2 linked regions of the Homo sapiens genome follow. The protein of the gene in region 1 interacts with the protein of each later gene in a pairwise test. Each region holds a gene or a part of one and is shown on either strand. Other genes may lie near its edges.

Region 1 (4,798 bases):
TCTTGTAGCAGGTAAAGGGACAGACATTTATTAATGCATATGTTGTGCCAGCAACTCTGTTCCATCTCTTTTACTCCTTGTAATTCCTCAGAGTGGAATAAGACAAAGCCTCCGGGAAGTTAAACAATTTACCTCTTACCCAGCCTTTGAGTGGCAGGACCAGAGTTCACGACTCAGGCACCTCTGGAACCAGGCCTGTGCTCTCTTCCACCATACCACACTCAGTTCTTCAATCTTTTGCAATTTCTATTGAGCTAAGCCAATTGAAAACCTCCTTGTAATTGGTAGGTTATCTGTATGGTGCTCTTTTGAATTAAGTATATAAACCAGGGGCATTTTCATGCAGGGTGGGTAAAATCATTTTATGTCTCTTAATCTTTGCTCCATTGTGAGTAAAATTATAGAATGTGACTTATTATATTCCTAAAATTAGACGCCAGAAGAATATTATATTCTCACAATAAGAAAATTTTATTCTAAAGGGGTAATATCCATCCATAAATGTAAACTACCTAAAATCAGATATGTATAATCCTTAATGGAAGGATGACAGCTGTGCATAAAATTTTTTTTGTAATATGCACTTCAGATACCTCTCCAATCTACTAGAAAGCACTGTCAGTGAGTTTGATTATCATCTTAATATACAGACAATTGTTAAATGGCATAATAGCCATCTTATCATTCATAATGCTAAATAATAGTTAATGACTAAATAATACCCTAGTGATCTAAAAGGACAAATGTCATCCAAATCTACTATACTCAGGAGAAGGGAAGGTTTATTCCTCCCAAGATGTCTGTCCCATTTCTTTTATAAAACATATAGACCAAATTTTAGATTCATTTAGAAACTCAGGTTGGTCAAGAAAAAGCTTTACTGGGTTTACCAATTCAAAGATGCCATGGTGAAATGAAAACATAGGAATTCTATTCAAACAGTATGAAATTATTTATGCTGATTTACTCTTAGAATGTTTCAATAAGATAACATCAACTGGGTAAATCAGTTGAGAATATTGCCACCATAACCATATTTATGTTTTCTTCTAGAATTTAATTCTTGGTTTAAAAACAGGAGGAGCAGTTTAGCAAACAAAACAAGAACAAGCAGGTTCACAGACCTTTTCTTCTACACTGTTTATAATTACCCAGGCTTAGTCAGCTTTTCAAACTTAAAACAAGTGCACAGCCCATATATGTCAAATCAGTACATTCCTCAGAACTCTGCTATTCTATAACATTAATAATATCTAAATGCTGTTTTTTTTTTTTTTTTTTGAGACAGAGTCTCACTGTGTCTCCCAGGCTGGAGTGCGGTGAAGCAATCTCGGCTCACTGCAACCTCCGCCTCCCAGGTTCAAGCGATTCTCCTGCCTCAGCCTCCCAAGTAGCTGGGATTACAGATGAGTGCCACCACGCCCTGCTAATTTTTGTAATTTTAGTAGAGATGGGGTTTCACCATGTTGATCAGGCTGGTCTCAAACTCCTGACCTCATGATCCACCCGCCTCGGCCTCCCAAAGTGCTGGGATTACAGGCGTGAGCCACCGCGCCTGGCTGCTGTCATCTATTATTGCAGAATTGCTACTGAAGTCTGATAAAAGCTTGGGGATTATGAGGAGGGAAGTATGCACAGAGGGGCAGTGAAGCATCATGATGTCTTGGATTTGCCTTCAAAATGCCTCTCCCAGAAAAGTGGGGGTGGAGGTGGAGATGGATGCAACAAGCCTGGTGAAATACCAACGCTCATTAAAGCTATGTGACCTGGATACATGGGGGTTCACTATACTATTCTCTCTTCTTGTGTATATGAAATTTTCCCTAATAAAAAGTTTTGTTAACATTATCACTTCACAACAGAATTAGGAGTCCAACGTTATTTATTTCAAAAAGTAAACTCAATAGTATTAGACCATAAAGCCTAGAATACAGATTAATAGCTCAGTGCTTTCATTTATAAACTCCCTCCCCCAAATTCGCAGAAAAGCTGCAAGAACAGCACAAGGAACTCCTAAATTTACCAAATGCTAACCTTCGGCCACCTTTGCTTTCTCTCTCATATGATACACATATACATATAAATGCACACATACATGCATATATCCTTTTTTCCTAAAGCCTTTGACATTTAGGTACAGATATCATGTCCCATGTCAACCACAATAAAAATATCAAATTTAAGAAATTTAACACTGATACAATGCTATTATCCAATATACAAGCCATATTCAAATCTCACCAATTATCACAACACTGTCCTTTGTCGCATTTTTTCCCTCATCTAGGATATAACCTGAAATCATCCATTGCATTTAGTGGTCTCTTTAGTCTTCTTCAATCTGAACAGTGCCTCAGCCATCTTTCATGACACTGACTTACAGAATGTCTCTTGATTTGCCTTTGTCTGATGTTTCCTCGTGATCAGAACCAGGTTATACATTTGTGGCACAGTAAGTGGCATTGTGTCCTTCCCGGTGCTTCCTATCAGGAAGTACAGGATATCAGTTTGTCCCATTATTCTTTTTTTTTTTTTTTTTGGAGATGGAGTTTTGCTCTTGTTGCCCAGGCTGCAGTGCAATGGCGTGATCTCAGCTCACTGCAACCTCTACCTTCTGGGTTCAAGAGATTCTCCTGCCTCCGCCTCCCAAGTAGCTGGGATTACAGGCGCCTGTCACCACACCCGGCTAATTTTTTGTATTTTTAGTAGAGACAGGATTTCACCATGTTGGCCAGGCTGGTCGCAAACTCCTGACCTCAGGCGATCCACCCGCCTCGGCCTCCCAAAGTGCTCGGATTACAGGCATGAGCCACCGCAACTAGCCCCATTATTGTTAATGTTAACTTTGATTATTTGGTTAAGTTCGTATACTCCAGGTTTTCCCCCCATTTTCCAATTAATAAATAATCTTTGGGGAAAATGCTTTTTTTGTGTGTGTGTGTGTGTGTGTGACGGAGCCTCACTCTGTCGCCCAGGCTGGAGTGCAGTGGCAGGATCTCGGCTCACTGCAAGCTCCACCTTCCGGGTTCACGCCATTCTCCTGCCTCAGCCTCCCGAGTAGATGGGACTACAAGCGCCCGCCACCACGCCCGGCTAATTTTTTGTATTTTTAGTGGAGACGGGGTTTCACCATGTTAGCCAGGATGGTCTTCATCTCCTGACCTCGTGATCCGTCCGCCTCGGCCTCCCAAAGTGCTGGGATTACAGGCGTGAGCCACCGCGCCCGGCCAAGAGTGGAAGTTCTTAACTAAGAAAGAAAGAGCTCTCTGCAGCAGAGAGGGATCCTAAAGAAATGGGTTGTCCTGGGGGAAATTCTTTAACAATGTAAATAATTCTGTTCCTCTTAAAATTTTCACATAACAGTTCAGCATCCATGGATGAATCTTGCTTGAATTAATTATTGCTATGATGGTTTCAAAGTAGTAATTTTCTAACTCTCTTTGTCTATATTTTTTAGTTGGCATCATTTGTAAACTTTTTAATAATGACTAGGGTTAGAAATCATTTAACTCAAGATTTTCCATCCATTTTCAGCCAAAGTGAAGCAATTTTCTTTTAAAGTCTAGGCATCTGAAATCCTGAATATCTCAAGTCACTGTTTAGCACTAGTTTCTAACGTGGACTTGTTGAGGGCTTATATTTGATCCCCGACCCCCACCCACCCTCTTCCAGGACTGAGCACTGAGTGGAAATTGCTGATGGAGTAGACAGGATGGGGAGAAAGGAAACTGCAGGTTGCCAACAAGAAAGAAGGAGGGAAAAAGTGGCTGCTGGTGGAGACTGACTGCAGGGCAGGAACATCAGCCTGGGATGCAACAGGCAAAAATGACACAAGATCAGCCAGGAAACCAGGAGCACCCAAACGGGGACAGATGTCTCCTTTTACAATACCAAATGTTCATCTGTCACAGCCCCAAAGACACATCCACCTGAAAACTGCCCAAGATTTCTGGGGTATAATAGAGTTAGATGTTTCCAACATTACCTAAACATGCCTGGCTGATCCTAAGAAATTATTCTTACAAACAGATTAAAGTGACTTCAAAACTAAACACCTATAAAAGGAAGTACTAATAATGCAACATATGCCATAAATGGAATAAAAAAATAAAATAGCGCTTCACTACTTTTGTGTTCTGGAAACAAAATATTATCTGGAATACTTGTCACTGAGGAAATCATGAAATAGTTCAGTACCCAAGTACCACCACTTTATATAACAGACTGGGATCTCAAAGTTCCTCACGATTTCATGATAACTTACTGAAAACCTAGTTGAAGCTCTCGAGTTCCCCTTTTCTCCTCTGGAATCTGCCCTTAGACAGCATGCTATCTAGATATAAGAACATTTTCTATTGGCTATGTTCTTTTTTGTGAACATTATAAGTTTCCAGGCAAATATTTTAAAAATATCTCCATATTTTATATAATTTACATGCTACATTCATATAGAAGGTCTTTCTGGATTCTCTCCAGAAATGACTGGAATAGAATACTTGGATTTCGCCTGGTTTTAGAACCAATTTTTCCCTCAAGGGGAAATTTTGTGGGGGAGAAAAATGGGGGTTGAGGGAAGCACTCAGCTATAGCCCTAAGGCAATATTGTGCCCAGGTTTGATTTATCTTATCGAGGTCATGTAGTCACTGCATGGTGACAAGACAGGACTGCTAAAGAAGTGATCATCACTCTGTTCCTACCTCCCTCTCACCTGTCACTTCCTCACCTGCAGAGGTAAGGAGAAGGACAGAGGAACAGTAGTTCCTGTATCACTGGAACTTGTTAGAAATGTGAATTCTC
Region 2 (4,798 bases), on another chromosome or scaffold:
ATCAAATATATAGGGAAAGTATAGTATTCAAAGTGAACTTAAAGGGTTGATTTAGAAAGAGCAAGCATAACATTCTCTTATCCCTGACTTGTTACAATATAACTCATTACAATATCCCTGATGTTGCAATATATCATCAAAGTTGTCTTCATAAATATAGTTTAGCGAGAAGTCCTGTCATTTCCCCTCCCAATTTGGGGGATTTAATGTGTGATATTCTCTGTCTTGTCAGTATGGTTTTCCAACTGGCATTATCTTTATCAGCATGTAATGCCACTTTAGTAATTCTTGATTGTTAGTTGGTTTTCAACTAAGCCTTTTAGAGAGTTTTATGTCATTTGTAGTCAGTTATTAAAACAGTATAGGCTTCTGGGTTCTTTGAACAGCTAGTGGTGGTACTGTCACTAAGTGTTGTAGTTCATGTGGCTGTCAAAAGACAAAATTACAGCACACTTAGTTTAGAGATCTTAATTGTCTTTTATTTGCAACTCTAGAATAGGGCAACACCTCATTCTATAAAATAGAACAAGTGTTCCAATGAGCTGAGCAGAGGCGTTTGGCTTTATAAACAGAGAAGGGAGCTGAGGAAAGCAGAGACAAGGAGCAAAAAGCGGATTGGTCATTTCAGAGTTACTTTTCTTGTGAAGGGTAAAGCAGTGCAGACTTCCTTTTCATGCTGGCTAAAACTGGCCTATTTGTGGTTTTGGCCATTATTTATCTCCTGATTTCGCAGAACGTCAGGAAAAGATCTTTGTCTTGGCTTGATAGCGTGGAACTTCATCATGAATTTGGTTTGGTCTTTGGGCCTAGTTCAGGAGCTCAGTCCAAAGCAATGGCCTCCTGGAAATTTTCTTTGACACCGCTCTTGTTATTCCTAGTCCTCATTGTTTTCTGTGGCTGTAGCTTATGAACTATAAAATCTGGTTTTAAGGTGAAAAGAGTTGTTTTATGATTGTACAATTAAAAAATAAGTAGAACAAAGTAGTTTTTGGTACTGTGAGTGAAAGAAACATGCATTTTTATTTATAGCATTATCCAAGGACCATTTTGTGACCCCTGTCTGGCATATTAGTCTAAAATAAAATTGTGGATTAGATATTGTATATTTTGGGAGTTCTTCACCCCATCCTTTTGTAGTTTATAATGGTTCTGCCATTTCCAGCATGTTTTCTAGATTATTTTCCAGTTCTTTTCCTTGTATGTAAAGCTCTTTTTCTTGTCTAAAAATTCTTAACTGAGAAGTGCTTTTAACTGTTTTCAGACCACCACTTGGACACTATAGATATTCAGGCCAAGATAAAGCACTTCATGGTGATTATGATGATTTTGAATGGCATTCACATTGCTAGTATAATTAACAAAGTATAGAAGTATCACCCAAACTGAAGTGGAGAAGACACTGAGAGATGACTTTTGGTCTTAAGGGCAGTTGGCCAGAATAAAGTATAGCAGAAGGGGAAAGAAGTACCGTTTCTTCCCTTTTCTATTCAGAGGAGACATTAGACCTCTCCTTGGAAGAGATTCCCAAGTTGCCACTTCCCTCTTGTTGATTAATTTTTCTCCAACCAGAGTTCCCCATCTGATGTCCAGAAAGATCTCCAAATTGTCTTTCTACCTTTTTTTCCCTTCTTTACATTAACACCATTTCTATTTGCTTGGTGTTGATTATATCTCTCTATAAGGATTTAGGAGAAAATAATCTGATTATTTAATACAAAATAAAACTATAGATTAGATACTGTGTCTTTCTTTGGGAATTCTTCACCCCATTCTTTTGTGGTTTAAAACAGTTCTGTCATTTCCTACATGTTTTCTGGATTATTTTCTGGTTTCTTCCTTTTATGTAAAGCCGTGAGTTGGTGCTTTAGCATTCTCAATATTTGCATTTTCAAAGAAAATCTTTTTTAAATGAACCCTCTGCTTCCAACTGACAGGTTTTCAAATTCTGTGACAAAAAAAATAGGATGAGGGAAGTTTTTTCTTGACTTCTTGAATCTTTGCTCTCCGTGATTAGTTCCTTAAAGTTATTTATTCTTCTGTATTTCTGAACTCATGGATTTCCCAAAAGTTCTATGTGCACATGTGTTAGGATTTTTTGGGTGTATGGGGATTGGCAGTAATGTTGGTGGTTGTGTTTTTACAACTCTCACTGAAAACTCCCCAGCCCTACCCTAATCTGAGCAATTCTATTAGATAGGAAAAAAAAAAAAATCCAGGTCTCATTTTCTCCATACGTCAGCCCAGATGGAAATTTAAGGAACTCTTAAATAGAGATGAATAAACAGATACTTGACATACTACACTAAAAGTTTACTAAACCCTAAAATGAGACAATTATCTGAGAATTCTTGTTTTTGCAGAAGAAACATCCCATGCTGTCAAATATAAATACTTTGGACTACCCAATGAAAATAGATACTACGAGGCAAATTACAATCAAAATGGTTTAAAGATATAATCTTGAATATTCTTTAATCTTTTAAGTAATTACAAAACGATTCCACCAGCTTCAAAGTAAAATATTTATGTCCTTCATTCTAACTAGAACTGGTTTTGTTCCAAAGATATAGTATACATGACCATGTGATTTCTCCAGTTCTGTATGTAGATGCTCACGAAACTGGCTATAATTATACAGTGTAATATTCCTTTTCATATGTAGAGAGCAAATTATTGGTAATAGAAACCTACCAATTAAAGTAATACTATATGTGTTGTACTCTTAACCTGAATGTTTGCCAGGTCTAGTCAGTGTTTAGATGTGAGTTTCCTTTATTCACAAGACCATTTAATAATATATGAACTCCTGCTGAAGTTATGTTATGTATATTTTTTATCTTAATACACACCCAGTGTATTCCAGAGACACCTTGAAAACTACTTAAAATACTCAAAGATATTATATTTCTCTCTGAATCATAGCCAACCTATATAATTAGAAAGTGGTACACAGTAAGTGAACAGACTCAGTAAGTCATAAACCTGAACTAGTATTCTTCACAATTACGTATAATAGAACTAGATATTCCCTATAAGGCCTGTCATTATATAATTTGTAATTTAGACCATTATAAACTTTAAGAGTTGTAAATTGTGAAAGTACTGCATGCAGTAGCAAAGCTATGGTCAGATATTACTGGCCAAGTCTTACATAGAAAATATTTTCAGGTTTTTTTTAAAATAGAAGGATTATATCTTGTGTCTGCTTAATTGAAAAGGTAAGAATCAATTTAAGATATACTTCACTATTTAGCTTTATATTATTTTCAGTTTTGTCAGAAGCCATTTTTCTAGACAAATTAGAGACTTCTGATTTAAAATGGAATTGAAGATTACCTTCATTTGATCAGGAACTCAAAAGTTGGCAAAATAGCAGCATAAAATCTCTACCAGACCTCTAAGTTTCTTGTTATTGCTGTGGTCTTTCATGTGATAGGAATCTGGTTGGGATTTTTAAAATACATAATTATTATTTTAAAGCACTCGAATTATGTGAGTACTTAATACCATTTGATGTCATTAGATACACTATTAATTGTTTAATACGGAAAAAGGGGAACAAACTCTACTGCAGCAGAAAGCACTTTTATTTCTTCATTCATCTGAAGTATGAAATTTGTAATGTATTTATTTAGCTTTAAGTCATATGAAAACTGTCAGGTATTATTTTGGGGCATAGATTTCTTAGTACATGGTATTTATTATTCACTTCAATTTTTGTAAAGCAGGTATTCTTGGTTTTTAGCAAAGCAGGCTTTAGCTATACAAATTTGCTTTTCTTTAAGCTTATGTGATTCTACTTTTCTCCCATATCTAGTTCTATACGCCAGCCTTCTCTAATGAAAACAACTTAGGAGGAGTGTTTTATTACCTAACCCTACTATACCAAACGCCAGTCCTTATTCTTGGTTATCTGTAGATGTTAACAGGTCATATTCTTTGTTTATTAAAAATAATAATAATAATTTTCTTTCCTGCATGTTATTCTGGAAGATTCTATCCAGTGGAATTCAACACAAGACACACTAACAGGAGGCCCTGCTTCATGGGATATTGGAAGTTTTAAGACAATGAAATCCAGCTATTACTTCTTAGTAACATAAAATAGAATTATTTGCCTTTGCTCTTTTGTTTTTTAAACTCTCCTTATCTTCCCCCCCACTTTCTTCCTCACAAAAAGAATCTTACAGCTGCTTTCTAAGAGTTTAGAAAACAACCTTTTCCTCCCCTTGGAGGGAATGTGTCAGGTCTAGGTCTTGGCAGCGTGTTAAAGCATTGACGTAATTAGTTTAAGACAAATTACGTGTTAACTAGAAAACGAAGGGACATTTCTTACCAAGCCGTGACAATGTACTACCTTAACTCAATAATAAAAATTGCCCAAGTGACAGTGTGTCTCTGCTGAATGGCTTTTCTTACACCATCTGGTTGTCATTGTAGTTTTTGTTGTTGTTGCTTTCATTTGAAATGTGCTGATGATCTTGTTTTTATTCCGTAGCATTGAACAGATGGGTTGATTATTCTTTTCAGATATTAATAAGGCAGCGGAAAGAAGAAATATGAATACGGCTCCATCAAGACCCAGCCCCACACGAAGGTAAAGTACCCTGAAGCCGTGAGTTACCTTGGGAGAGTTGGGCTCTGGGGAGTTAAGCCCAGCTTCGTACACCAAAGGTCTTTTCTTCCCCCCAACAAGTGAAACGCTCAAGCAAACAATAAGAACATGAACCCTGTGTGAAGGGCCTTGCTGCTTTTTTTAAACATACATCAGGAGATACAGAGGAAGCTTTGTGTTTTC

The links. Proteins that work in one complex are often made in the same cells at the same time.
Region 2: the proteins of SYT16 (region 1) and NCOA5 interact in a two-hybrid assay, tested with the Homo sapiens proteins (one large-scale study listed by BioGRID).

The regions. Positions count from the first base shown.
Region 1 is NC_000014.9:61,815,161-61,819,958, reverse strand, and holds part of SYT16 (synaptotagmin-16), read right to left. Parts: intron 1-4,798. UniProt on the Homo sapiens protein: May be involved in the trafficking and exocytosis of secretory vesicles in non-neuronal tissues. Is Ca(2+)-independent.
Region 2 is NC_000020.11:46,079,186-46,083,983, reverse strand, and holds part of NCOA5 (nuclear receptor coactivator 5), read left to right. Parts: intron 1-4,530; 5' UTR 4,531-4,559; coding exon 4,560-4,597; intron 4,598-4,798. UniProt on the Homo sapiens protein: Nuclear receptor coregulator that can have both coactivator and corepressor functions.